Regions from separate parts of the Homo sapiens genome. Here region 2 is linked to region 1. The links come from fine-mapping of genetic effects on gene expression. A gene starts in region 1. The other region holds a variant in brackets. All regions are shown on one strand. Distances are between the middles of the regions. Region 1 holds the start of TYW2 (tRNA wybutosine-synthesizing protein 2). Region 2 has its middle 34 kb from the start of TYW2.

Evidence for each region.
Region 2: its variant is fine-mapped to the expression of TYW2 in whole blood (INTERVAL, PIP above 0.99).

What each region holds. Positions count from the first base shown.
Region 1 is chr8:124,444,384-124,459,926 of GRCh38, reverse strand. TYW2 (tRNA wybutosine-synthesizing protein 2) reads right to left here and starts at 9,107. Exons shown (of 1, transcript NM_017956.4): 1 at 6,901-9,107. The coding sequence starts at 8,999. The coding sequence ends at 7,653.
Region 2 is chr8:124,409,082-124,424,624 of GRCh38, reverse strand. No RefSeq gene overlaps it. Among named protein-coding and RNA genes, the nearest start is that of TYW2, 34 kb to the left of the region's middle. The variant C/T (reference allele first, on the strand shown) is at 8,068.

The DNA.
Region 1 (15,543 bases):
GGAGAAGGGCCTATAGGAAACACACAATGGTAACTGTAAGATTCAAAAGAAAGTTTCAATGAGACAAATAGCTTATCTTGGAGAAGAGGTTAAGGGGCCCTCACTTCCTCTGCCTTTACATAGTTGATTCTATTCAAAATTCAGCTCTAGGACAGGCACCATGGCTCATGCCTGTGATCCCAGCACTTTGGGAGGCTGAGGTTAGAGGATCACTTGAGCCCTAGAGTTCGAGACCAGCCTGGGCAACATAGTGAGACCCTCTATCTATAAAAAAAATTAAAAATTATGGGTGGGCACAGTGGCTCACACCTGTATTCCCAGCACTTTGGGAGGCTGAGGTGGGTGGATCTCTTGAGGTCAGGAGTTCAAGACCAGCCTGGCCAACATGGTGAAACCCTGTCTCCACTAAAAACAAAAATTGGCTAGGCATGGTGGTGCACACCTGTAATCCCAGCTACTCGGGAGGGTGAGGCAGGAGAATCACTTGAACTTGGGGGGGTGGGTGTGTGGGAGGTTGCTACTCAGGAGGCTGGGGCAGGAGGATTGCAGTTCAGGAGGTCAAAGCTGCAAGTAAGTCTTTTGTTTGTTTGTTTGTTTGTTTGGTGGGGGACAGAGTCTCACTCTGTCACCCAGGCTACAATGCAGTGGTGTGATCTCCGCTTACTGCAACCTCCGCCTCCCGGGTTCAAGCGATTCTCCTGCCTCAGCCTCCTGAGTAGCTGGGATTACAGGTGTTTGCCACCATGTCTCACTAATTTTCGTATGTTTTTTTTTTTTGGGGGACGGAGTCTTGCTCTGTCACCCAGGCTGGAGTGCAGTGGTGTGATACTGGCTCACTGCAATCTCTGCCTCCTGGGTTCAAGCGATTCTCTTGCCGCAGCCTCCCGAGTAGCTGGGACTACAGGTGCCCACCACCACCCCTGGCTAAGTTTTGTATTTTTAGTAGAGATGGGGTTTCACCATCTTGGCCAGGCTGGTCTGGAACTCCTGACCTTATGATCCACCCGCCTCAGCCTCCCAAAGTGCTGGGATTACAGGCATGAGCCACCGCACCTGGCCAATTTTTGTACTTTTATTAGAGACAGGATTTCACCATGTTGGCCAGGCTGGTCTCAAACTGCTGACCTCAGGTGTGATTTGCCCACCTCAGCCTCCCAAAGTTTACAGGCGTGAGCTGGGATTACAGGTGTGAGCCACTGCACCCAGCCTGCAGTGAACCTTGATTGCGCCACTGCATTCCAGCCTGGGCAACAAAGCAAGACCCTAAAAATAATAAAATGCAGCTCTGGTGTTCCTTCCTGTAGGAAGTGTTTCCAAGTTCTTTGCTTTTTTTTTTTTAACAGCTTTATTGAGATATAATTCACATACTATAAAATTCACCCTTTTAGTATATATGTTGCTGAAGCAAGTAGGGAAATTCACCCTTTAAAAATATACAATTAAATGGCTGGTTCATATATTATAGAGTTGTGCAATCATCACCACCATCTATTTTCAGAACATTTTCATCTTCCCACAAAATCAACCCAGTACCTATTAGCAGTCATTCTCCATTCTCCACTCCCCCCAGCACCTGGGAACTTACTTTCTGTTTCTATAGATTTGCCTATTCTGGCCATTTCATATAAATGGGACCATACAATAAATGACCTTTTGCAACTGGATTCTTTCACTCAGCATAATGTTTTCAAGGTTCATCCAGAAACCATGTATCAGTACTGCATTCCTTTTTACAGATTCCATTGTATATATATGACATTTTGTTTAACCACTCATCAGTTGATGGACTTTGGGTTGTTTCCACATTTTGTCTATGAATAATGCTGCTACAAATATTCACGCACAAGCCTTTGTGTGGACATATGTTTGCATTCTCTTGGGTATATATACCTCTATCACATATGTCTTATTTATTTGGTTAATTCACTGCTGGGTAATATGCTAACCCTATGTTCAACACTTTAAGGAACTGCCACAACTGTTTCCCAAGTGAACAGGGTTGGATCTTTATTTTAAACATTTTAAATGCTTGTAATCATTTTAAATAATAGTTGAGTTTGAAAATGACTACTTTTACAGCTTGTGCAATATAAAGTGGCTGTACCCTGAGGCTGTTCAGAGTGATATATATTGGATTTTGTCACATGTATGCCCAGGGTAGGAGAAAATGAAATTTAAATTCTATTTGTTTCTTACTATTTTTAATTTCTGTTCGTGTATGGTTTTTCTGTTTTTGAGACAGAGTCTTGCTCTGTTGCCCAGGCTGGAGTGCAGTGGCACAATCTCGGCTTACTGCAACCTCCACTTCCTGAGTTCAAGAGATTCTCCTGCCTCAGCCTCCCAAGTAGCTGGAATTATAGAAGCCCACCACCACACCTGGCTTATTTTTGTATTTCTAGTAGAGACAGGGTTTTGCCATGTTGGACAGGCTAGTCTCAAACTCCTGACCTCAGGTGATCCACCTGCCACAGCCTCCCAAAGTGCTGGGATCACAGGCATAAGCCACCGCACCTGGCCTATTTGTGTATTTCAAAGGCACATATTGTACTCATATATTACTGCACTCATATAATTTTTTAAATTACAAAGTTAATAAAGCAGCTCAAGTTTGAGGGAGTTTTTAAAAATTACTATTTTTTAAAAATCACAATATCTCTATCAGGTGGCTGCATTGACTGGCAACTAATACTGAAGCTTGCATGGGAAGCCTTTAGAGCTTATACAAATTGCTGGACTGAGATGACAAGGACCCCATGAGCCTCCCGAACCCTTCAGTCTTTTTTCATTGGTTCCATAAGATGCCTCTTCCCAACCAGGGCAATCCAGCAAGTCCTCAAAGAAAACTAAAATGTAAATGAACATGCTTAAGTAGAGAAAAAGCTTAAGGGAGGCTTCTGTTCTTCCATCCACACATTAACTCCTGCTCATTCTTTAACACTCCCTTAGGCATCCCTGCTCCTACCTTCCTAGTCACCCTGTTCAATCCTCAACCCACATCCTCAAATGAGGGTGGCTGCCTCTCCTATGTGTGCCCATAAAAACCCTTATTTCTATCTAAGCACTCAGTAAACAGCACTGACATTGTTTTCTCTGTATCTGTGTCACCAGATAGTGATCCCATTGTGGGCAGGACTCAGTTTTATTCATCTCTATGTCACTGGCTCCAAGCACAGCGCTTAATGGAGAGAGTACACAGTATCTCCTAATTAATCAGTGAATGGCTTTTCAAAATAATGACATTCTGCCTCAAGTAGGCCAGACATACAGCAACCCCTCACAGCCAAATTGGAAAGTGGTGGTTCATCATATACAAAGACTGACTGATAGAATGAAGTGTGAAAGGAAAATAAAATGTCAGACCCCAGGCCGGGCGCAGTGGCTCACACCTGTAATCCTAGCACTTTGGGAGGCTGAGGTGGGTGGATCACCTGAGGTCGGGAGTTCGAGACCAGCCTGACTATGGAGAAACCCTGTCTCTACTAAAAATACAAAAATTAGCCGGGCGTGGTGGCACATGCCTACAATCCCAGCTAATCGGGAGGCTGAGGCAGGAGAATCGCTTGAACCTGGGAGGCGGAGGTTGTGGTGAGCTGAGATCGTGCCATTGCACTCCAGCCTGGGCAACAAGAGCGAAACTCCATCTCAAACAAACAAACAAACAAACAAACAAGTCAGACCCCAAACTTACTATGCCAAAGGGAAAAGTGAAGCCTGGAAACTCAGTCATGCAAAAAAACTGCCTTTCCTTTTGCCTAAACACAGCCGCAAGATAGAAGATTCCATATCTCCTCAGTTGGCCTCCCTTACCTTGACAATGTAAACAGCTTATCTTCACAGATACAGCACAAAGTCAAGACTAGAAACCATCCCTCTGCCCACCTCAGACATATGCATATTTACTGAGTCCTGACAAATGCTTAATTGACTGTTCCTCTACCCCACTTCACATGTAACATGTGGATTCAGTGAGCACTAATCAAAGCCTCACAAGAATGTGACCACTTAACTCACTACCTACACTCCTTTTTGTTTTTTTCCTCTACCCCTACTCCTCCTACCCTCACTTTCCCCTTTAAATACTGAAGCCCTCAAAATCCTCTTTGGAAAAATGTGTGGGCCACAGATCCTACTGTGACTTGTGTCTTTTTCCCATGTGTGTCCTCAACCTTGGCAAAATAAGCCTCTAAACTGATTGAGACCTGTCTCAGATACTTTTTATTTTACAAAAGTATTCACCACTCAGTGAGTCACGATGATGACAGCTTAACATATATTCATTTAAACCTAAGAACTACCCTACAGGATATGTACAATTGTTAACCCTAATGTACAGATAAGGAAACTAAATCTTGAGAGATTCATAACTTGCCTGAGGTCACCCAGAAAGTAGAGGAGTCAGGAGTTGAATGAGTGGAATCTAAATTCTAAGAGGCATTTGGGAGGCCGAGGCGGGTGGATCCCTTGATGTCAGGAGTTCAAGACCAGCCTGGCCAACATGGTGAAACCCTCTCTACCAAAAATACAAAAATTAGCCGGGCATGGTGGCAGATGCCTGTAATCCCAGCTACTCAGGAGGCTGAGACAGGAGAATTGCTTGAACCTGGGAGGCGGAGGTTGCAGTGAGCTGAGATCGCTCCACTGCACTCCAGCCTGGGCGACAGAGCGAGACTCCATCTCCAAAAAATAAAAACAAATAAATTATATGAAGGCAGAGCCATGTCAGTCTTACATCACTGCACACACAGGGCCCATATATATATGTATATATTTATTTATTTATATATTTATATATGAATATATATATTATATATGAATATATATATTATATATGAATATATATTATATATGAATATATATATATTATATATGATATATATATTATATGAATATATATATAATATATATATGAGAGAGGGAGAGTGCAAGCATGCAGGAGTCCAACAACTGTTGGTCGAATGAGTTCAACTGGCCACACCTGACATCAGCTGTCTATCCAGAGCTTGTGGCAAAAAGGCAAATCCTCAGTCCCCAGACTGACTCTCTGGCTCCTCTTCCTCATTGTTTCTCCTTGTTCCCTTCCCATATTGGCTCAACCTCCAGGTTGGTATCTTTATAGTTTGAGGACAGCAAGCCATGGACACACAAGTGAGGAAAAACCCACTATGTAAAAGAGGAGATGACTGGCTGGGCATGGTGGCTCATGCCTGTAATCTCAGCACTTTGGGAGGATGAGGCGGGCAGATCACAAGGTCAGGAGATTGAGACAATCCTGGCTAATTCGGTGAAACCCGTCTCTACTAAAAATACAAAAAATTAGCCAGGCGTGGTGACACACACCTGTAGTCCCAGCTACTTGGGAGGCTCAGGCAGGAGAATCGCTTGAACCCAGGAGGCAGAGGTTTCAGTGAGCCGAGATTGTGCCACTGCACTCCAGCCTGGGTGACAGAGTGAGACTCTATCTCAAACAAAAAAAAAAAAAAAAAGGAGGAGATGATTAAGGTAACACAGGAAGACCGCTCTGTGAGATGGGAATGGAAATAAGCAGGCTGTTTGTTTTTGTGGTGGGATCACATGCTGGCTAACATCTCCCTAGGGGATTACTGTGTACAAGACACAGTGCTTTTTTAATCCTTACAACAACCCCCATCTTCAACACATCTCTCACTGCTTCCTCTGTTCCAAACTTATCTAATAACAACATACCATTTTCTGAGGATTCAAACTTTTGCATCTGTTATTCTCTTCTACTAGTGCCTGTTTCTACCCGCAACCTACCCATCAAAATCTTACCCAGTTTTCATGAGCCAATTCAAACACTACCTCTGAAGACTTCACTATTCAGTTCTGAGAACTCCTTTCCCACCTTTTCATTCCTACAACGTGCTATCACTCACATGGCACTCATCTTACTGCATTCCAAGTCTTTCTTTGAGTACTTGTGTTATTTCTGCTGCTAGATTGTGGGTTTCTCAGAGACAGGAACTCTATCTAATGGATCGTTATGTTTCCTGTGGCTTTTGTATATAATAGGCACTTAATATTTGTTGGATAACACAAACAGCACCAACCTGTCCTTACTGCTACTGTTGCAAGAGAAGGATGAGTAGCCATGCCCAAATCCAGCCAGCCAAATGTCAGGTACAATCATACAAGGCCACACTTTTCTATATTTCCTTCACCTAGCAAACCAGCCTAGATAGCTTCAAAATACACCAGAACAAAGCTCTGAGTGGTAATCAACAATTAGTCATCTTGGGTCATGCGTGGTGGCTAACACCTGTAATCCCAGCACTTTGGGAGGTCGAGGTGGGCAGATCACTTGAGGTCAGGAGTTCCAAAACAGCTTGGCCAACATGGTGAAACCCCATCTCTACTAAAAATACAAAAATTACCTGGGCATGGTGCTGCACACCTGTAATCCCAGCTACTTGAGAGTCTGAGGCTTGAGAATCGCTTGAGCCTGGGAGGCAGAGGTTGCAGTGAGCCAAGATGGTGCCACTGCACTCCAGCCTGGGTGACAGAGCAAGACTCTGTCTCAAAAAAACAAAAAAGCAAACAAACAAAACAACAAACAATTATTCACTCCAGTGGCAAACCATCTTTTATGGCAGACAGCCATAAAATAAGGTGAGGCTGGAAATGCTCTGCAGAATATCTCACATTCCCTATAGCTTCTTAGGTTGTCCCTCCTGTTCTCAGCCACGGTAGGAAGATGAAGAGGGAGTATGAGGCCTATACGAATCTAAGATTTTAATAGGAACTTTAAACTAATAAGTATTAATTGGCAGCTATTGCACAAGCTTGAGGCTAGAAATCTAGATTCCCTATGATTTAGAACAGTGATTCGTCCTCAGCAGATGAGCTTTAAAAAAAAAAATAGACTGGTGATTCTTAACCATATTTCTACCACAACAAACCAAATTTATAAGACAACCCCTCACAATCATTTAGGAATGCCACAGTAAGGGAATGGAAATACACTAAAATAATTTTTGTTCCCTTCTCTCTCTAATTTAGTCAGTCATAATAACAAAGCAGCTTCATGTTAAGGACTTAATTCTGATTCCATTGCTTGGTCTGTCAATTTTATTTATCATATCAATCTACCTCCCATTACCACCATCCGAGTCCAAGTTACCATCACCTCAGACCTGGACAACCACAGAAGCCTCCTCACTGGTCTCTCTGTTTCCATCTTGGCCCTCCTTCAGTCAATTTTCTATATGGTAGCCAGAGCAATTTGGAAAAAGCACTGTGTCTTTCACTCTAAAATAACCGATGTCCTGTGTATAGTTGCTTAATAGTCACGTGAGACAGTTCAAAGAAACTCTCATTTTGCAAATAACGAAACCCGAGGCCAAAACATACTGAAACTTCAATTCCAGAACTGAGGTCAGAATTTGGAATTCATAATTGCACAGATGAGCCTCATTTCAATGGGCCATGCTGCTTCTCCCAAACAGGTATTTCATTTTCTGTTATCAATGAAAGACAAATGAAATAATTTGAATTGATCTAGAGCCTGCTTTCAGGGCTATAAAATATGAAAAAAACTGATCACCAGGGGACAAAAGGGATGACAACCTGGACTGAACTGATACATTTAAGGGCCACTCGCACGTGGATCCCATGTGTCCCAGGATCTACCTCCTCTAGCCAACTGAAGGACAGGGGCAGCATTCCAGATCCAGGACTATGTGATCCACATGGGGAGCATAGGATTTCACTGGTTGGATGTGCAGAATTTGTGTCTTCCATGGTTTCCCATGCACCTGCTGAAGAAGAGTGGCGATTCGAGTTTCTGCAGATTCTGCCCACCTTTGCCACTCTGGCTTGGTGGCTGGTGACAGCATTTTTCCCCTAGAATCCCTGGTAGCTCCATTTTTCCATTGGTTGGTGGTAATTTGCTGAGGATACAGCCAATGCTCTTTCTCTACTTTGCTGACTCCAAGAGCCTGAAGATTCTTCCCTGGGAAAGATTCCACATTTTGGTGGATATGCAAAATGCCTCCAGCATCCTGCCTTAACACTTGGCAGGCAATGGGCCAGCCTTCTTCAGAGCTGGGAATCAGCCCCAGGATCACCCTATCTGCAATATTTGAGAGCTTCAGTTTTCTGTTATCTCCAAAGTGTATTTGGCACCGATCTGCTACTCCATTGATCTCAAGGTTATTTCTCAGAGCAACTACAGCATGGGGATTCCACTCACAAGCATGGACGAAGGCAGCACCAGCATGAACTAGGAAAGGCAATGTAAAATAACCAATCCCTGCATAGAGATCCACCAGCACTTCTCCAGCACAGGACAACGATGCCACTCGAAGCTTCTCAGTGATGTTTCCAAAGGAGAACATACACTGGGTCACGTCAAACTTATAACGGATACCATTATCCACATGCTCTACCCAGCCATGGTCACCCAGCAGCAGTGTCACTGCTGGAGTTCGAGTACCATCCGGTGATACCCGCCCTCGTTTTGCCAAACGCTGGACGCCAAGTGCCAAGGCAACGGTCTCCCAGAGTTCCGGTCCCAGATTTTTCCACTGCTTGGCTTGGAAACAGTCTTCACTCAGCAACAAGAGATTACCATGCCGTTGCCATGATCGGGGCAAATCAGCCTCCAACTCGGCTGACCACTTGACTCCCCGACCCTCCACCCAGCGACTCACCTCAAGACACAATTTTTGGGCAGGTGAACAACCCTGGGCCCTCTTCGAAGGAACAGGATCCGGGAGCTGCGTGAGCATACAGGGACTGCCTGGGGCAACACGATTCCTCAGCTCCTGCAGGTGCTGCTCTGGAAGCGTCTCTCCCAGCACCGGTAGCGCCACCGAGCCATCCGGCATCTTTTCCACACGGTGCTGTGTATCAAAGAGTTTCTGCCTCTGGAGATATTCTCTGTATCGCTGGGTAAACCAAGGCTCAGTCACAACTGCGACAACAGCCACGGGCTTCCCACTTTCTCTCTCCATGTTGCTAACAACCACATTCTCTCTCATCACCTCAGCGATACTCCATCTCCTCAGAGTCGGCTCACCAGGCTGACTAAATTCCCGGTCTTAAATAAGGTAGCCTGCAGCTCACCCGGCCATGCCGGTGCCGGAAATGACGTGCAAAGAGGCCGGAACTAAATATATTGATGCGCTTGCTTGAGAATGGCGTTGCCGTTGCTGTGGAGAAGCTGCGGCCGCCATCTTTTTTATGGTCAACCATTACTTTTTTTTCAGCCTAGGAAGACATTTATAACAGGGAATCTTATGGACTAAAAGACTTCAAATTGCTATTTTCCAGAAACCTCATGCACTCTCTTCAGTGCTGCTCATGAATTCAAAGAGAAAAATTAACATGAAATTGTCAGAGGCGCATGAACCAGAGCAACTCCATCTTAAATAGGAGCTGGGTAAAATGAGGCTGAAACCTACTGGGCTGCATTCCTAGACGGTTAAGGCACTCTAAGTCGCCAGATGAGATAGGAAGTCAGCATAAAATACAGGTCAAAAAGACCTTGCTGATAAAACAGGTTGCAGTGAAGGAGCGGCCAAAATCCACCAAAACTAAAATGGCCACGAGAGTGACCTCTGGTGGTGCTCACTGCTACACTCCCACCAGCGCCATGACAGTTTACAAATGCCATGGCAACGTCAGGAAGTTACCCTATATGGTCTAAAAAGGGGAGGCATGAATAATCCACCCCTCGTTTAGCATATCATCTGGAAATAACCATAAAAATGGGCAACCAGCAGCCCTCATGGCTGCTCTGTCTATGGAATAGCCATTCTTTTATTCCTTTACTTTCTTAATAAACTTGCTTTCACTTTGCACTGCGGACTTGCCCTGAATTCTTTCTTGCATGAGATCCAAGAACCCCATGTTGTAGTCTGCATTGGGACCCCTTTCCTGTAACAAAATGATGATCTGAATTTGGAGAAAGCTTTCCCATAGCCTAATGCTGCTCTCAGGTTAGCATCAGCAGCCACCTTATTTTCTGAAAGTGAAGAGTCAGATACAGCTCCCTTTTTCCCTTTTCATGCAGATATAGTCATCACTGTTTCATTGTCCTTTGGTCCAAGAAACAACTATTTGAAAGTCAGAAGGATCTGAGTTCCAGTAAATCGTATCACCCCTCAAAATTGGAATCTTCACTTATAAAATGGAATCTAATCTTCAGAAGATTGCTATAGTGAGTAGAGACATTATAGTGTCTTAGACAATAACTAGTAAAGAGTAGATACTTAAAAAGATACAAAGTAACAAGTTGGCTAGCTCACAGGTACTAAATACCTGTTGAAATGCTTTGATATTCCTAAAGAAGACAAAGGGGAATTCCATATAGACTAAATCAAATAGTTGGATATAAGAACTGTAAAGAAACCCTATCACTTCTACTTCACTCCCGCTGTCAGAGGAGTCCAAACCAGAGTGACTCCATCTTGAATAAAGGCTGAATAAAGCAAAACCTGCTGGGTTACATTCCCAGAAAGTTAAGTACTCTCCATAATAAGACTGAGGCAGGAAAATAGGGTCTGGAGGCAGGGAACCTAAGGCTGATTCACACTGACTTCGTAGAACTAAATCAAAAGGAAAAAACCAACTATCTATGCCTAAGTAACAGAAGGACCAGAGGTTACTCCCTTTGCAAACCTGCTTTTCTGCAGGGCAGAAGGAAAATTGAAAGTACCTCTGATTGGTTGCAGAAAGCCACCAATCAATCCAAATACCCACTAGAGGTTTCCCATTGGCCACTTGGTGTGCACTCCATGCAAATGAAATAATGGCCTCAATCAGACGTTTGCATAGGAGTGCAACTTTGTAACTTTACTTCAGCCTCTGATTGCAGGCCACTACTTCATTTGCATGGGGTGAACACCAAGTGACCAGTAAGAAACCTCTAGTGGGTATTTGGACCCCAGAAGATTCTGTAACCCAGCTGTTGAGCCCCTAGACAGGGGCTGCTCCCATCCTGGGGAGTGTACTTTCATTTTCAATAAATCTGATTTTGTTGCTTCATTCTTTCCTTGGTTTGTACATTTTGTCCAATTCTTTGTTCAAGATGTCACGAACCTGGACACCCTCTACCCATAACAAGACCTTTTGGCTGAACGAGCTAATGATTCTTACTCACTAAACAAGACCCAGAACTTAAGAAGATGTCCTGATATCTTGAGAACAGAAAGCATTATTAGTTTAAGAATAGGTTTCTCTTTAAAGATAATAGTATTTTCATAAATGTTTGCTGAAATCAATAGTTACACAGAGAATAACACTACTAATACTCTGTCACAAGTGGATCACAAGCTGTTGTACTAAAGCACATGAGACCATTATTCTTAGCTAGCTACATAATTTTTGGTGTGGGGTCCTCCTCTCGCCTTCTGAGAACACCCTACTCTGTAATAGAGTAGTCTTTAATAAACTTGCTTCTTTCACTGTGCTCTGTGACTGGCCCTAAATTCTTTCCTGTCTGAGATCCAAGAACCTGTTTTTTGGGTCTGGAACAAAATTCCTTTTAAGTAACATTTCCTGTGGCAACTCCCAAGGACTTTATTGAGGTGAGACCTTCAACCCAAAAGAAATAGACTGCGCAGGACCAACTGACTGACTTTGGGTAAGAAGGGGAATACATTTTTATACCGATGAAGGACAAGGACACTTATCTAAGATTGGGTTTGAGGCCTACTTGGGAGGATTAAAGGCCCCTCACAGCTGAAAATGGGTTTAGCACAATGGGATGTTAACCATTATTCACTGTGGATTCGTCCTCCTTGTGCTCTCTGTAAGAGCTTTCCAAAGGCTGCCACTTGCCAGTTTCCTGATTGCTTTCTATGCTTTACTGCTACTTTATGAGAGAGATCTTGTTGAACTGGTCCTGAGGTTTTTAACTTTCCTTTTTCTTGTTTGCCTTTGGGTTATGGGCCATTTGCCTGTTGTTCTGGCATGTTGCTAGAAGACATTGGGGACAAATGGCTCTGTAATATTTACTTTCCCTAGATCTAGACCACTTAAATGAATTGTTTATTGTCTCTCCTTTTTTGCAAAGCTTACTTGGAATTTCGCATTTACAAGTTTTAAATGAAAAGGTCCAATGTGAAAGATTAAGCCTGGCAGCAATTATACCAGTCCCCCCTAGGTGAACTGCTCCAGGATGGAAAACTGGAGATTGCTTTTCAGCAGTTCTTTTTCATCTCCTTGCTAATGGAATGACTTTTACTTTTTGGTTACAAATGGCAAGGCCATGTAAATCTTGTCCTGCTTGCCGCTACTGGCCTGAACTTGGACATTCCTTTCTAGAACTTTGTCATTTCCCTTCTCTAGTGAAACATTTCTTTTGCTGAGTCCCCTATTGTGGTCTTTACTTTTGATTACCTAATAATCTTTTGGTTTCTGTGTTAACTTGGACAATTCTTCCCCGTGGGTTTAGGGACAGGCTTTACTTTCTTCCTTTATGTGGCTGAGAAACAAGGGACAGCCCTAAATGTTCTTGTCTAGAAACAGGGATACATCCCTTGACCCATGGCATATTTTTCTAACCAATTGACCATGTGGCTTCAGGATGACTCAGATGTTTCAGGGCAGTTGCAACAACTGCTCTTCTCATAGATGAAGACAATAAATTAACTTTGGGACAACATCTGGAGGTTTTGACCCCACACCAAATAACAGAGGCCCTAGAAGCTAAAGGGCACCAATAGATGAGTAGGGGATAGTTATTAAATTATCAGGCTTTATTGCTAGATACTCTTGATATAACTCTTAAAGTATAACAGAAGACCTTAATCCTAGCTACGTATCTACTTGGATCCAAAGGCACCCTAGATCATTCATGTACACAAGCTATGGAACAAATTTATTCCAGCTGGCAGGATTTAAAAGACGGGCCACTAGGGCTGGGTGTGGTGGCTCACACCTGTAATCCCAGTACTTTGGGAGGCTGAGGCAGGCGGATTACTTGAGGTCAGGAGTTCCAGAACAGCCTGGCCAACATGGTGAAACCCCATTTGTACTAAAAATACAAAAATTACCTGGGCGTGGTGGTGCACACCTGTAGTCCCAATTACTCAGGAGGCTGAGGGAGGAGAATCACTTGAACCCAGGAGGCAGAGCTTGCAGTAAGCCAAGGTCATGCCACTGCACTCCAGGCTAGAGACAGAGCGAGACTCTGTCTCAAAAAAGGATAATAATTTTAAAAAAGAATTAACATGTACACAAACTCCAAGTATGGCTTTCTGGTGCTTCATGCTCATGCTGCTATTTGGAAATAATGGGGACTCTTTAACTTCTAAGGGCTCCCCTATAGAACATTATTTGGGAATTTTAAATCTACTAGATGCTTCCTTGCTGCCTAAGGAAGTTGCTGTGATTCACTGCAAGGGACATCAAAAAGAAAACTCCAAAATATGCCAGGCACTGTGGCTCACACCTGTAATCCCAGCACTTTGAGGGGCTAAGGCGGGCGGATCATGAGGTCAGGAGTTCGAGACCAGGCTTGCCAACAGGGTGAAACCCCATCTCTACTAAAAATACAAAAATTAGTTGGGCGTGGTGGCTCGTGCCTGTAATCCCAGCTACCTGGGAGGCTAAGGCAGGAGAATTGCTTGAACCTGGGCAGCAGAGGTTGCAGTGAGCCTGAGATCGTGCCATTGCACTCCAGCCTGGGCAACTTGAGCAAGGCTCTGACTCAAAAAAAAAAAAAAAAAGAAAAAAAAGAAAAGAAAAGAAAGAAAGAAAACTCCAAAATAATAAAAGGGCATTCTTTTGCAGATGCTACAGCTGAGGCAGCTTCATTTGAGGGAACCAGTTAATCTGGTAGGCATGTTGGTGCCCACTGCCTTGGTGACGATAAAACTAGAGCATGGTTAATACTAGAAAAGAACAAAAATGGGCTAAGACCCATGGGTTAACTATAAGCACTTCCAGATGGCTAATTGATGAAAATGACAGATGATATGTACCAAGAGCTGATCAATGGAAAATAGTTAAGTATTGGCATGGCTCTACTCATTTGGGAAGAGATTTCTCATTTCAATTAATATGGCTCATCTGTTTATAGGGAAAGACTTTCTTTTTTTTTTTGAGACGGAGTCTCGCTCTGTCACCCAGGCTGGAGTGCAGTGGTGTGATCTCAGCTCACTGCAACCTCTGCCTCCTGGGTTCAAGCAATTCTCTGCCTCAGCCTCCCGAGTAGCTGGGATTGCAGGCATCTGCCACCATGCCCAGCTAATTTTTGTATTTTTAGTAAAGACAGGGTTTCACCATGTTGGCCAGGCTGGTCTTGAACTCCTGACCTCGTGATCCACCCACCTCAGCCTCCCAAAGTGCTGGGATTACAGGCGTGAGCCACCGTGCCTGGCCGAAAAGACTTTCTTAGAACAGTAAAACAAGTGACTTGGGCCTGTGAATTGTGTGCCCAAAAAAACCTCAAACAACCAAACTTTACCTCCTCCATTAGTAAAGCCTGTTCAGCATAGGGGGTCGTACCCAGAAGAAGATTGGCAAACACACTATACCCAAATGCCCCCATGTAAAGGATTCCAATATTTATCAGTGTTGGTTGATACCTTTCTTTACATGTTGGATTGAAGCTTTTCCTATCTGGCCTGAAAAGTCAATCAAGGTTTCTAAATTTTCATTCAAGGATATGATTCCCAGATTCAGGTTGCCTAAAAGCTTGTAGAGTGATAATGGCCCATCTTTACAGCAACAATAACCAAGACATAGCATCCGCTCTAGGAATTCAATATGGTCTTCATTCCGCATGGAGGCCACAGTCTTCAGGAAAAGTAGAAAGGACCAATCAAATTTTAGACAGGACCCTTGCTAAGCTCTGACAGGAAACATCAGAAACCTGGCTCCGTCTATCGCCTGTGGCCTCGCTGCAAGTTTGGGCTGCCCCAGTGGAAGGCTCAGCCCTTTTGAAATAATGTACGGAAAGCCTTTCTGAAAGAATTGCTGATTTCCTAGTAGATGGAGATACTTTCAAATTACAGAATTATGTTGCCAACTTAGGTCAGGTGCAAAAAGCTCTTCTTGAATACAGAAATGAGAGACTTCCTTCCCTCACTAAGGAAAAAAATCCTATTGTAATCCAGCCAGGAAATGGGATCCTGTTAATGACTTGAAAAAATGGTCCCTAGCAGATCAACTTTCCCACAGTGGAAAGGACCCTACTAAGTAAGTACTCCTTAGTGCCTCAACCGCAGTTACACTTCAAGGAAGAAGCAGCTGGGCTCATTGATCTTGAATTAAGTCTGTTTCTTATGAAGTCCCACAGGCTGCTGGAACACAAGAGACTGATTCCACTTATTCCTGTGAACCAACCAGTGATATCTGGCTCCTGCTTAGAAGAAACAAGAAAGATAAATAACATAAAAATCTGGATTAATATCCCAATTCTGGACACATATTGGTATTAGCTAAGAGGCAATCTCTTTGCTGGCTGGGCACAAACTTCAGCCTCCCTACACAACAAAATGGATTGCCGGGTGTGTGGAGAACTACAGCTCTCCTCCACCGTGGTGCTGCCATGATACATCCTGCCAGCCAATA
Region 2 (15,543 bases), 35 kb after region 1:
AACTCCCGGAACTGTGAATGTGTTGCCTTACACAGTGAAAGGGGCTTTGCAGTTGTTATTAAATTGAAGATTTTGAGATGGGGAGATTAGCCTTGATTACTTGTGTGGGCCCAGTGTAATCACAGGGTTATTATGAGAGAAAGGCAGGAGGAACAAAGTGAGTACTAGGAGGTGTGACTACAGAAGCAAGAGGCTGGAATGAGGCAAAGAAAGAACCAAAGAATGCAGGAAGTTTCTAGAAGCTATGAAGGGGAAGGAAATGGATTCTCCTCTGAAGCATTCAGAAGGAATGGTATCTTTTTTTTTTTTTTTTGAGACAGAGTTTTGCTCTTGTTGCCCAGGCTGGAGTGCAGTGGCACGATCTTGGCTCTCTGCAACCTCCACCTCCTGGGTTCGAGTGATTCTCCTGCCTCAGCCTCCTGAGTTGCTGGGATTACAGATGCGTGCCACCATTCCTGGCTAATTTTTGTATTTTTGGTAGAGACGGGATTTTGTCATATTGGTCAGGCTGGTCTCGAACTCCTGACCTCAGGTGATCCACCTGCCTCGGCCTCCAAAGTGCTGGTATTACAGACATGAGCGACTGTACTCAGCCTACTATTTGAATTTTTGATTGTGTCTCAAAGTATGTTCAGTTTAGAGATTATCTCTATTTGTGCTTTTATATTCCATAAATGCACACATATGTATATGATAAATATAGATAAACAGGCTGCCCCTCTGTCTGGCCTGTGGACAGATGGGATAATTATTCAGGACTCCAATCCTACGAATTATTTCCTTTATAACTGGGTTTGATTCTAAATTTCCTTTGCATAGAACAATCAAATCAGTATCATATAATTGCAAGTATTGCACAATTACTAGAGATTTGAGCTTATTTTTCATTATTTTCACCATTAGTGGTTATTTACATTTAAAATACACATTGGATTCTCATGGTAACATTTTCTCTATACAGATCCACTTAAAAACTGGCCTTAGGAACTACATGAATGAAAAGAACTGGATACACAGTTTCTATTAAATTATTTTTTGGGGTCAGGTGCAGTAGCTCACCCCTATAATCCCAGCACTTCGGGAGGCTGAAGCAGAAGGATTGCTTGAGGCAAGAAGTTCAAGACCAGCCTAGGTAACATAGCTAGCCTCCCTCTCTACCAAAAAAATAAAAATTATAAAAGATTAAAAGAATAAATTCTTTTTTACATGGATTTTTTTTTTTTTTTTTTGGCAAAGTCTCACTCTGTCGCCCAGGCTGGAGTGCAGTGGCGCTATCTCTGCTCACTGCAACCTCCACTTCCTGGGGTGATTCTCCTGCCTCAGCCTCCCCAGTAGCTGGGATTACAGGTGCCCACCACCAGGCCCAGCTAATTTTTGTATTCTTAGTAGAGACGAGGTTTCACCATGTTGGCCAGGCTGGTCTTGAACTCCTAACCTCAAGTGATCCACTCGCCTTGGCCTCCCAAAGTGCTGGGATTACACGTGGCCACCGCACCCGGACTTGCATTGATTAAAAAAAAAAAATTCAGAGAGAAGTCTCCAAGGGTCATAATCAGAACACTACATAGAGGTACATGGGAAGTTGTTCTTATTTTGTGTGCTAATTTCAGAGGAAATATAAAGAAATTAGAGTGGTTATGTTAAGGGGTCAATTTCCTTACGAAGGTTCTCATACTGACTGATATACAAAAAGGACTGTAAACAACACATAAAATCAGAGGAAATTTTCTAACATGCGTATCTGGTCAATTCATTTTCCTGCTGAATATCCTTCAATGGCTCCCCATTATTTACAGAATAAAGTTAAAATTTCTCGGCATTGTGTTTGAGGTGTTTTTCACTGTGGGCTTAATCTCTCTGACATGATATCTAGCCCCTCTTCAAAAACACCCTGTGCTTTGGCCTTGGGAAATGATCCCTGCCCCACGTCACGCCCTTCCTCTGTCTGAGCAACACACACAGACTTATTTTTGCCATCCTTTACAATATCGCTCTCATGCCAGTACCTCCTCTCAGATGTCTTCCCGGGCTGCCTGCCCTTCTCCCTGGCTCAAACGCACAGCTTTCTCCTTTATGGGCCCGTGATACAGCCACTATAATTACTTGTTTACAAGCTGTCATCCCCAACAGACTGAACTGCTGCAGGGCCGTGACTTCCTTCTTTTCCTCTGAATGCCCTGCCTTTGGCAGATATGGGCAGTCTGAACCTGTCGGTCAGTTCTTCTCAGTTCTTTCTAGCTCTGAAAGTGTGAAAGTATGGATTCTGTATTTAAGGATTCATGTCTTTGAAGACCAGGGACAACTATTATTTGTATTACACTGCATGGATAATTTAAGAGACATATAAAGTTAATTTCGGTCTATACCTGAGCACACTTAAGTGCCTAACTCTTGCATAAGAAAGAATTCTGGCCAGGTGCGGTGGCTCATGCCTGTAATCTCAGCACTTTGGGAGGCCGAGGCGGGCAGATCACCTCGGCCAGGAGGTGATCAGGTCAGGAGTTTGAGACTAGCCAGGCCAGGTCAGGAGTTTGAGACTAGCCTGGCCAACATAGTGAAACCACATCTCTACTAAAAATACAAAAAGTAGCTGGGCATGGTGGTGGCAGGCAACTGTAGTCCCAGCTACTTGGGAGGCTGAGGCAGGAGAATCACTTGAACCCAGGAGGCGGAGGTTGCAGTGAGCCGAAATCACACCTCTGCACTTCAGCCTGGGCAACAGAGTGAGACCCACCCACCCCACCCCTCCAAAAAAAGTTAGAATTCCATTGTAATAATTTTATACCTGCTATATACACACTTTACAAAACTTTTCAGTGTAAGAATTATAACCCTACATCTCAATACAATTTACTTCTAAATGCGTTAGCTGAACTGGGTGTGGTGGTGCACGCCTGTAATCTCAGCTACTAGGGAGGCTGAGAGGGGAGGATTGCTTGAACCCAGGAGTTTGTGATCAACCTGGGCAGCATAGTGAGATACCCATCTTAAAAAAATATCATTAAGGAGCTTACTATCTTATAAAGAAAAGGAACAATAGCATAAGTGTATCTTTGTGTAACAACAGTATGTTGCTGGATTTGTTTTCAGAAGGGAGCTGTCGCTAGACAAAGCTACAGCTGTCATGGTTAAAAAATAAAACTGGGGACCAGGTGCAGTGGCTCATGTCTATAATCCTAGCACTTTGGGAAGATTCCTTGAGCCTAGGAGTTTGAGGCTAGCCTGGGCAACATAGTGAGACCCCATCTTTTTTTTTTTTTTTTGAGACGGAGTCTTGCTCTGTCACCAGGCTGGAGTGCACTGGTGCAATCTCAGCTCACTGCAACCTCCGACTCCCTGGTTTAAGCAATTCTCCTGCCTCATCCTCCTGAGGAGATGGGATTACAGGCACGTACCACCATGCCCAGCTAATTTTTGTATTTTTAGCAGAGACGGGATGTCACCCTGTTGACCAGGATGGTCTCGATCTCCTCACCTCAAGTGATCTGCCCACCTTGGCCTCCCAAAGTGCTGGAATTACAGGCGTGATGAGCCATCCCATCCGGCCGAGACCCCATCTTTAAAAAAAAATTAGCTGGGCGTAGTGGCGCATGCATGTAGTCCCCAGGTACTCCAGAGGCTGAGGTGGGAGGATCCTTTGAGCCCAGGACTTTGAGGCTGCAGTGGGCCATGATGGCACCTCTGCACTCCAGCCTGGGATACAGAGCAAGATCCTGAGTCAATAAATAAATAATAAATAAATAAATAAAACGGGTTAATGTCTAAATAAGATCATAATCTCAGGAAGAAACAAATTGAATTATCTGGCATTGATGTTGACAATGAAAACCATTTATACATTTAAACTGGTGTGGCATCCATTTATTATATTTAGTATTGCCTTTTAGAAACAGAACTGCTTGAACTGCACTTCTGTGAATCAAATAGATCTTATATTTCTTGGTATAGTTCACCCAAGACAATATTTTATAGAGCAACTGTCCTCAGGAAGAAAATACTCTTGTTTCAGTTATTCAATGGGATTTCATAATAAAGTTAAACCAGGATTGAAGGACTTAATCTGCTGCTGCAGACAATTTACAGTTTTACCATCAGCATTCATTTCTCTGTGACATAGCATAATTTAGAAAATTCAAGGAAAATGTTAGTAAATCATAACATCAAGCCTAAGCGGTCATTTGTAAACTTTTGTATGCCACTGGCAATTTATCATTTGACTTGCTACCCTCCCACCCAAGTTCATAATCCTCTTGACTCCCCAGTTAACATTAAATTTCCAATTCACACCTACCAAAGGAGAGTTTCTGTAAAATAATCCTTGGATTACTGGCATGGGAATCATTTGGGGCTCATGTGAAAGATGTAAGTTCCTGGGTCCTACCTCCAGCCCACTGAATCAGAAATCCTGATGGCGAGGACCTTCCCTGACATAGTTGATTAACCAAAAGGTTTTAGTTTTTTTTTTTTCCCCCTTATATAAACAGGCACGCAAGTAGGTAAACTAGGGTAGTAATGGCAGCTTAATGCTGCCATCTGAGACCAGAGATCCTCCTGGCTTTCTTACATGTTTTTATTCTCACGGTGTCAAAATGGCTGCTCCATCTCCAAGCACTGAGCTACATTATCGGAAGGAAACAGGGAAAGGAGTAAGGGAGAAAGTCAAAAGGCCTGGTGCTGAGTCGGCCATCTTTAATACACTTCCTTAGGGGTTCCACCCAGTGAATTACACTTGTTTTTCATTGGCCAGAGGTGGGTTACTGGTCACCAATAGCAAGGGAGTCTGGGGAGGTACTCTTTAACAGGGGACATTGACACCCACACTAATCAGAACTGTATATGCTGGCGCGGTGGCTCACCGCTGTAATCCCAGCACTTTGGGAGGCCGAGGCCGGCGGATCACTTGAGGTCAGGAGTTCGAGACCAGTCTGGCCAACATAGTGAAACCCTGTCTCTACTAAAAATATAAAAAATAGCCGGGTGGTTGCGCACACCTTTAGTCCCAGCTGCTCCGGAGGCTGAGTCAGGAGAATCGCTTGAATCCGGGAGGCGGAGGTTGCAGTGAGTCGAGATCATGCCACTGCATTGCAGCCTGGGCGATAGAGCGAGACTCTGTCTCAAAACCAACCAACCAACCAACAAACAAACAAACTGTATTAATAAGAAAGCAGGGAAGAATGGATTTTTAGTAGGCAATTAATGTCTGCCACACACATCTTTTTCTTTTTAATAACTTTTTAAAATAAGTAGAGCAGTCTGGTGCTTTAACTTTGTTATTTTTTATAGTATTTAAATTATATTATAATGTTATTAATTACATTTTGGATGTTTAAGAATGTTTTTGCATCTTTTAGTATGGCTTTGTTTGAAAACCAAAATATTCTTGAAGAACTGTCTTCACTTTTATAATGGTTACCAGTGGCAAAATTAAATTTGGTATATTAAATTTTGCTTTGTATCTGGAATAAAAAACTATCAGACAAGAGTACAGCTAGCTATTCTGAATCATATGTCTTATCACTGATTGCTAGTACAAAATCAACTATATTCTGATACAAAATCTTCTGGTTCCATGTCTTAACAAAAAATTATGGTCATAATAAGGGGATTCATATTTTCAACTGTGTCTCTATGCAAATATTTTTCCCCTCTTTCTTTACCGCAGCAACACTTTTCAAGTTTTAAGAAAGTCCTTAAAACTGAGAGTTTCATATTTGATGGTTAAAAAAATTTATATGTTATCTAATATGATGTCCAACATATGTAAATACTTAAAAGAATTATATTTTAAAAAGGGAAAGATAAAGAAACTCAAATGGAATGAAAATTTTAAAATAACTTATAACTGCATCAGAAACACAAAATACCATGGGATATATCTCATGGAGGATGTATAAGACCTCTACACTGAAAAGTACAAAACATTGCTGAGAAATTAAAGCAAGATATGTCCCTAGCATAGGAAACTGCCCTGTGTACCCAAGGACATCCTACATATCAGTGCTTTATGTCTGTGGCTGGGATGCATCTTTGAAGCTTATGAATGTTGGCAGACACCCATCATCCATTAGGCACAGGTGTCTGCTATCAAATCCAGGCCATATTGTCATATTTCCTATTTATCTTTTGTGTTTATTATAAATTACCTAATGCCAAATTTCTCATTCTGATGCTGAATACTTGTCAAACCATTAGATGTTTACTGACTATAGAATGGAATCAATTCTTTTTTTTTTTGAGACGGAGTCTCTCTCTGTCACCCAGGCTGGAGTGCAGTGGTGGGTTCAAGCAACTCTAATGCCTCAGCCTCCTGAGTAGCTGGGATTACAGGCATGCACCACCATGCCTGGCCAATATTTGTATTTTTTTTTTAGTAGAGAAGGTGTTTCGCTATGTTGGCCAACCTGGTCTCTAACTCCTGGCCTCAGGTGATCTGCCTGCCTTGGCCTCCCAAAGTGCTAGGATTACAGGCATGAGCCACCATGCCTGGCCCAGAAATCAATTCTTTCCTCACTGTGTAAACCCATGATAGCTTTCCTCCATTGGCTAGTGCCTCTTCTGTGATGCTTCTCTACTCAGGTACCTTAGCTTGGATTCTCAAGGCCCAAACCCCCTCAGGCTCCACCTGTCCAGCCTTACTTCTCACTACTCTCCAACACAGCAGCATAGAGTAGTGGAAAATCTTAAGTCTGGGAATCAAGAATGCTGGAATGCTGAGTGTATTCCTGAATGTGCCACTTTTTATGTGGATGTGCCTTTGTGCAAATCATCTTCCCCGTCACACAGGAGTTTGAACTCCCTGAATTTTTTTTTTTTTTTTTTGAGACGGTCTCTCTCTGTTGCCCAGGCTGGAGTGCAGTGACACGATCTCAGCTCACTGCAACCTCTGGTTCCCAGGTTCAGGTGATTCTCCCACCTCAGCCTCCCAAGTAGCTGGGATTACAGGCATGAGCCACCCCACTTGACTAATTTTTGTATTTTTAGTAGAGACGGGGTTTCACCATGTTGGTCAGGGTGGTCTCAAACCCCTGACCTCAGGTGATCCTCCCACCTTGGCCTCCCAAAATGCTGGGATTACAGATGTGAGCCATCGTGCACAGCCAACTCCCTGAATTTTAATCCACTGCTTGCAGCATTTATCTACACATTCATTTGACTGCATCTTTGCTTCAAAAAAAATTGCCCCTTTTTTTGTGCATCAATCATTAATTAACCATTAATAAATGATGCAAAACGATTAATTTGATTTTAATGTATTATTGTTTATTATAAATAATATAATTATAATATACAATATAACACATTATATTTATTAATTATAATAATAAATATAATTATTTATTATTGCTTATTATAACCGTAATATATCATTTTTAAATTTTATTTTTCTCCTCATAGTGCCTGCCATGAACATAATATACATGCTTATTGAGCCCTTAATTGTACATTGAGATAAATACTGTGAGATATGGCAAGATCTATAAAATAGCACTTACCTTTAGTCAACCTATAGTTTTATGCGCTTATCCCCAAATTTTTTTTTTTTTTTTAGATGGAGTCTTGCTCTGTCGCCCAGGCTAGAGTGCAGTGGCGTGATCTGCAACCTCCGCCTTCTGGATTCAAGCAGTTCTCCTGCCTCAGCCTCCCAACTAACTGGGACTACAGGCGCAGGCCACCATGCCCAGCTAATTTTTTGTATTTTAGTAGAGACAGGGTTTCACCGTGTTGCCCAGGCTGGTCGTGAACTCCTGATCTCAGGCAATCCGCCCGCCTCGGCCTCCCAAAGTGCTGGGATTATAGGCGTGAGCCACTGTGCCCGGCCTTTTTAAAGTTTTTTTTGAGATGGAGTCTCGCTTTGTCACCCAGGCTGGAGTGCAGTGGCGCAATCTCACTCAGCTCATTGCAACCTCAGCCTCCCAGGTTCAAGCAATTCTCCTGCCTCAGCCTCACTAGTAGCTGGGATTACAGGCACGCACCACCACGAGGGCTATTTTTTTTTTTTTTGAGATGGAGTCTTGCTCTGTTGCCAGGGCAGTGCTGCGATCTCGGCTCACTGCAACCTCCACCTCC[C/T]GGGTTCAAGCGATTCTCCTGCCTCAGCCTCCCGAGTAGCTGGGACTACAGGCGTGCACCACCATGCCCAGCTAATTTTTGTATTTTTAGTAGATAGGAGGTTTCACTATGTTGGCCAGGATGGTCTCCATCTCTTGACCTCGTGATCCGCCTGTCTCGGCCTCGCAAAGTGCTGGGATTACAGGCGTGAGCCACCGCGCCAGGCCTAATTTTTGTATTTTTAGTAGAGATGGGGTTTCACTATGTTGGCCAGGCTGGTCTCAAACTCCTGACCTCATGTGATCCACCCACCTCGGCCTTCCAAAGTGCTGGGATTACAAGCATGAGCCACTACGCCCAGCCTGAAAGCTCGAAGATTCTAATCATGGCTTGGTCTTTCTGGTAAGCAGCCCCCATCCAGGGGCCCACCAAGAGCCACCTCATTAGAACGGAAGATGCTCCAATCACCCAAGAAACTCAAAAGTATTTAGGAGTTCAGTGTCAGGAACCACAGTCAAAAACAATATATTAGAACAAAAGATGCAGCTAGCACCTCTATTGCTCAGCAAATTACAAGGGTTGTAGGAGCTCTGTGTCAGGGACTTGGGGCAGAGAACAAATACGTATTTCTTACTATATCACAACATCACACCTTCAATTCCATTTGAGCTCGCCTTTCTTCTTCTACTCCCTCTCACAATGTTACCATGAGGAATTCTCTCCAGCTTGTTTGCCATTCTCTCCCGCTTTCCCTCCCCAGACAGCAGTCCTGCTCATGGCTCCTATGCACTTTGGCTCCCGCTTAGCTGAGCAGCTGGTTGGTGAACTGTGTGGGGCCACTAATTGTTACCCACAGGCCCTGATTGGGGGAGGACCCTGAGGTAATGATCCTCACACTATCCCCCTCACCAAGTAATTATGGGGGGCAAATGAAACCCTATCTTTTGGGCTCTTAACTTGAGTCACAGAATGCTTTGGAATGACCCTCTGCAGAGTAATGGATATACAATCTGGACTTTGCCTAAAATTTCAGGGCAGTCACTCTTGAAATCCAGAACTTCTTTCTGTCTGGTGGATAAATCCACTACACATCCCATAGACTCTGCGTCATAAATACCTGATGTACAAGAGATAGACACTTTATAAATCATCAACACTGACTTTGGCAGAGCCTATTACCAATATTATTTCCTGGGAGCCAGAGGAATACAAACCAAAAGTCTCCTGGTCCCTTTTCTGCCACTGGAGTGTGACTCACGGCAACTCCCTATGCTTTCTGTCTCTCTCTTTTCCCCCAATTCAGTCTCACCATCCTGTTTGGGGATTTACATAGTGGTTGTGAACCAAAGATTCACTTTGGAGGGAAACCTGGCCTAGTGATGATCCTTAGGCATCTTGTTATATATTAAAATATATGGGCCTGGTATGGTGGCTCACACCTAGTTCCCAGCACCTAGGGAGCCAACACACGAGGATCGCTTGAGCCCAGGAGGTTGAGGCTGCTGTGAGCCGTGTTCATGCCACTGCACTCCAGCCTGGGCAACAGAGCTAGACCCTGTCTCTTAAAAAAATGAGTCAACAAATTTAAATATTGTAATTATGCTCAAAAGGAAGTAGCAATTTGGTTGCTTTATTTATTTTGGGATCACTTCAAGTTTATGGACTAAGTTAGAAACATAATGCATTGCATATTTACTATGTCATATACTTATAAGTGTATATTGGCCAGGTGTGATGGCTCATGCCTATAATCCAGCACTTTGGGAGGCCAAGGCAGGTGGATCACTTGAGGTCAGGAGTTCGAGACCAGCCTGGGCAACATGGGAAAACCCCGTCTCTACTAAAAATACAAAAATTAGCTGGGCATGGTGGTGCACGCCTGTAGTCCTAGCTACTCGGGAGGCCGAGGCAGGAGAATCGCTTGAACCCGGGAGGTGGAGGTTTCAATGAGCCAAGATTGTGCCACTACATTCCAGCCTGGGTGACAGAGTAAGACCCTGTCTCAAAAAAAAAAAAAAAAAAAAATATATATATATATATATATATATAGAGAGAGAGAGAGAGAGAGAGAGAGAGAGAGAGAGTAATATGTTACATATTACAAATATATTTTTATTACCATTTTCATTTATATAATTACTTATGTAAAAGTTATGCATTTGTATAGAAATACACATATGCATACATTTCTATAGAAAACTATGTTAAGGGAAACCATTGTAAAAAAAAAACCCATTTGCAATTTTCGTATCTTCCTTATAAATCCTTGAAGAGAAGCCACTAAATTTAATACATCTCAGATAACTGTGATTCATAAATGGTAGGGGATGAAAAATATATGGCTGCTGCTCTCAAGGAATTTACAGAAAAGTAGGCATTTCATAAATACTTGGTGATTTATAATGCACTGATCTTTGGAGCCTGGATAACCTGGCTACTTAATATGTCACGCCTCGCTGATATCAAATAGACACCCAAAGGTAATGATTTCAAAGGTTATTCTAATTAACAAGGGACTACTTCAGACTCTGGCAGAATATGGTTCATTAAGTACAATTTAATCATTAAGGCAATAATATTAATTATGCATGCTTTCTGAGAAAACACCTTATCTCTTTATTCTTATTAATAACCATCTCAATTTTATAAATTACATTCAAACTTATGTACTGAAAGTTATGCAAAGGCAAGGGACCATTGTTTTAGATAGAAACAATAAATTATTTACCCAAAGCTATTCAGAAAACACTAGTCAAAACTGAAACTAGGCTTCCAAACACCCTGTCAGTATTTAAATATGTCAAGGTCAAAGTCAGATTAAGCAACTGGTCTTAGATATTTTTAGCAGTAGCTACAATTAAGATTTAATAACAGTACACAGGTCTGGAAAATGTCATAATGTCATACACCAATTATTATCTTGAAATTCATTAAGAACTCCATAATCATAAGAGTTTTGGGAGACAGGCAATGGAAAGAATATCTTGTTAGGTACCTACTATGAGCCTGGTGCTCTATGGTTCATTATGAAAATCATCTCAGTGAATTCTCGTAACAACCTTGTGATGCACATTTTTAATCTTCATTTCATCCACGAGGAAACAGAGGGGAAGAAATTTGCTCTGGTTCATTGTGCTAGTAAATGGAAGAGCTGCACAAGTTTAAATCCATAAAATAAAATGCAGAGAAGTACAAAGACAGTTGTATTTAATAACTGTAAAATGTATTAGAATGTAAATAAATAGTACCTATCTAAGTATTTTCCTGCTTATTGATGAAGGTCAGTATTTTTTTTTTATTATACTTTAAGTTCTAGGGTAGATGTGCACAACATGCAGGTTTGTTAGATATCTATACATGTGCCATGTTGGTGTGCTGCACCCATTAACTCGTCATTCACATTAGGTATATCTCCTAATGCTATCCCTCCCCACTCCCCCCACCCCACAACAGGCCCCAGTGTGTGATGTTCCCCTTTCTGTGTCCAAGTGTTCTCATTGTTCAATTCCCACCTATGAGTGAGAACAGGCGGTGTTTGGTTTTTTGTCCCTGCGATAGTTTGCTGAGAATGATGGTTTCCAGCTTCATCCATGTCCCTACAAAGGACATGAACTCATCCTTTTTTATGGCTGCACAGAATTCCATGGTGTATATGTGCCACATTTTCTTAATCCAGTCTATCATTGATGGACATTCGGGTTGGTTCCAAGTCTTTGCTATTGTGAATAGTGCTGCAGTAAACATACATGTGCATGTGTCTTTATAGTAGCATGACTTATAATCCTTTGGGTATATACCCAGTAATGAGATGGCTGGGTCAAATGGTATTTCTAGTTCTACATCCTTGAGGAATCACCACACTGTCTTCCACAATGGTTGAACTAGTTTACACTCCCACCAACAGTGTAAAAGTGTTCCTATTTCTCCACATCCTCTCCAGCACCTGTTGTTTCCTGACTTTTTAATGATCGCCATTCTAACTGGTGTGAGATGGTATCTCATTGTGGTTTTGATTTGCATTTCTCTGATGGCCCGTGATGATGAGCATTTTTTCATGTGTCTTTTGGCTGCATAAATGTCTTCTTTTGAGAAGTGTCTGTTCATATCCTTCACCCACTTGTTGATGGGGTTGTGTGTTTTTTTCTTGTAAATTTGTTTGAGTTCTTTGTAGATTCTGGATATTAGTCCTTTGTCAGATGAGTAGATTGCAAAAATTTTCTTCCATTCTGTAGGGTGCCTGTTCACTCTGATGGTAGTTTCTTTTGCTGTGCAGAAGCTCTTTAGCTTAATTAGATCCCATTTGTCAATTTTGGCTTTTGTTGCCATTGCTTTTGGTGTTTTAGACATGAAGTCCTTGCCCATGCCTATGTACTGAATGGTAATGCCTAGGTTTTCTTCTAGGGTTTTTATGGTTTTAGGTCTAACATTTAAGTCTTTAATCTATCTTGAATTAATTTTTGTATAAGGTGTAAGGAAGGGATCCAGTTTCAGCTTTCTACATATGGCTAGCCAGTTTTCCCAGCACCATTTGTTTTTGTTTTTTTTTGTTTTGTTTTGTTTGTTTGTTTGTTTGTTTTTTGAGACGGAGTCTCACTCTGTCGCCCAGGCTGGAGTGCAGTGGAGCGATCTCGGCTCACTGCAAGCTCTGCCTTCTGGGTTCACACCGTTCTCCTGCCTCAGCCTCCAGAGTAACTGGGACTACAGTCACCCGCCACCACGCCCGGCTAATTTTTTGTATTTTTAGTAGAGACGGGGTTTCACTGTGTTAGCCAGGATGGTCTCGATCTCCTGACCTCGTGATCCGCCCACCTTGGCCTCCCAAAGTGCTGGGATTACAGGCGTGAGCCACCACCCCTGGCCTACCATTTGTTAAATAGGGAATCCTTTCCCCATTTCTTGTTTTTGTCAGGTTTGTCAAAGATCAGATGGTTGTAGATGTGTGGTATTATTTCTGAGGGCTCTGTTCTGTTCCATTGGTCTATATCTCTGTTTTGGTAACGGTACCATGCTGTTTTGGTTACTGTAGCCTTGTAGTATAGTTTGAAGTCAGGTAGCGTGATGCCTCCAGCTTTGTTCTTTTGGCTTAAGATTGACTTGGCAATGCGAGCTCTTTTTTGATTCCATATGAACTTTAAAGTAGTTTTTTCCAATTCTGTGAAGAAAGTCATTGGTAGCTTGATGGGGATGGCATTGAATCTATAAATTACCTTGGGCAGTATGGCCATTTTCACAATATTGATTCTTCCTATCCATGAGCATGGGATGTTCTTCCATTTGTTTGTATCCTCTTTTATTTTGTTGAGCAGTGGTTTGTAGTTCTCCTTGACAAGGTCCTTCACATCCCTTGTAAGTTGGATTCCTAGGTATTTTATTCTCTTTCTAGCAATTGTGAGTGGGAGTTCACTCATGATTTGGCTCTCTGTTTGTCTGTTACTGGTGTATAAGAATGCTTGTGATTTTTGCACATTGATTTTGTATCTTGAGACTTTGCTGAAGTTACTTATCAGCTTAAGGAGATTTTGGGCTGAGACAATGGGGTTTTCTAGATATACAATCATGTCATCTGCAAACAGGAACAATTTGACTTCCTCTTTTCCTAATTGAATACCCTTTATTTCTTTCTCCTGCCTGATTGCCCTTGCCAGAACTTCCAACACTATGTTGAATAGGAGTGGTGAGAGAGGGCATCCCTGTCTTGTGCCAGTTTTCAAAGGGAATGCTTTCAGTTTTTTGCCCATTCAGTATGATATCGGCTGTGGATTTGTCATAAATAGCTCTTATTATTTTGAGATACGTCCCATCAATGCCTAATGTATTGAGAGTTTTTAGCAGGAAGCGCTGTTGAATTTTGTCAAAGGCCTTTTCTGCATCTATTGAGATACTCATGTATTTTGAATACATGGTGAATATCATGACTTTATTTATTTATTTATTTATTTATTTATTTATTTATTTATTTTTGAGACAGAGTCTTGCTCAGTCACCAAGACTGCAGTGGTGTAATCTTGACTCACTGCAAACTCTGCCTCCTGGGTTCAAGTGATTCTCCTGTCTCAGCCTCCCAAGTAGCTGGGATTATAGCTGTGCACCAGCACACTCGGCTAATTTTTGGAATACCATGACTTTTATGTGATGTAATCGCTGGCCCCAATCCATTCACTTTAGTGATTGTTCTTAAAGCTGATGCCGCTATAACAAGATTTTTTTTGGGGGGGTGGGCGGGGAAGCTAATGTGACTTCTACTTTTCATCTTTCCAAAAATCTTTTCATATTTGGGGACCTACCTATCTTGATTATGCAAAAAAAGATGCAAATAGAACAGCTGTACTTGATTCTGGGGCTGAAATCAGTAAATATTTATTGAGAATCTACTTTGGTGCCAGGCACTAGGCTAGGTACTGGGGGTGCTATGGGGTATTGGACAGTCAGACAAGGTCCAAGACTACTTGGGGTTGAGAGTTTGGGAAAGGCCTCTCTCAGGAGGTAACATCTGTGCTGAATTTGAATGATGAAGAGGAGCCAGTGATGCAAAGATCTGGGCTCAGAATAACCCAGGTAGTGGGAATAATACATGCTCCATTCTGATGCAGCAACACGCCTGGCATGTTATAAAAACAGAGAGAGGCAGAGGTTGAGATCAGGTAGTGAAGTAAGCAGGGGCTAGATTATGCTGATTGTATAATCAGCATAGGAAGTCTAAGTTTCTTTTAAGAACAAATAGAAGCATTGGGAATTTTTTTTTTTTTTTTTTTTTTTTTTTTTTTTTTGAGACAGAGTCTCACTCTGTCACCCAGGCTGGGTGCAGTGGTGTGATCTCGGCTCACTGCCAGCTCTGCCTCCCAGGTTCACGCCATTCTCCTGCCTCAGCCTCCCGAGTAGCTGGGACTACAGGAGCCTGCCACCAAGCCTGGCTAATTTTTTGTATTTTTAGTAGAGATGGGGTTTCACTGTGTTAGCCAGGATGGTCTCAATCTCCTGACCTCGTGATCTGCCCGCCTTGGCCTCTCAAAGTGCTGGGATTACAGGCGTGAGCCACCGCGCCCAGCCGGGAATTTTTAAGCACAGGAATACATGCTCATGTTTATAAACTTTTACAGTATCTTGGATCACAGGTCTTCAGAACTTAAAGGGAGTTTAGAGATTGCCCAGCTAAAATTTTACTTAAGAGTGAAGAAAAACTAAATCTCACAGGAATTCCATGATGTGGCCAAGGTGACACAAATAGTGCAAGCAGAGTGAGGATGTGTCCCAGTTCTGGCTCCAGAACCAATGTTCTTTCTATTTCAGTACTTGACCTTGCCATCTTAAGCTAGTACTTTTGTGGAAGAATTTAAAGCATTCTTTAAGTCTCTTTGAAAAACTGTTCCTAAGCCACAAGATAATCTATTAACGTGAACGCTGTAGTCAGCAAGCTTTAAAGACAGCACAAAGTCCTTGCTAATGTCCTGAGAAAAGTCAATACTTAGTTGGAGTGTCAATTACACTAGTGTCCCATGA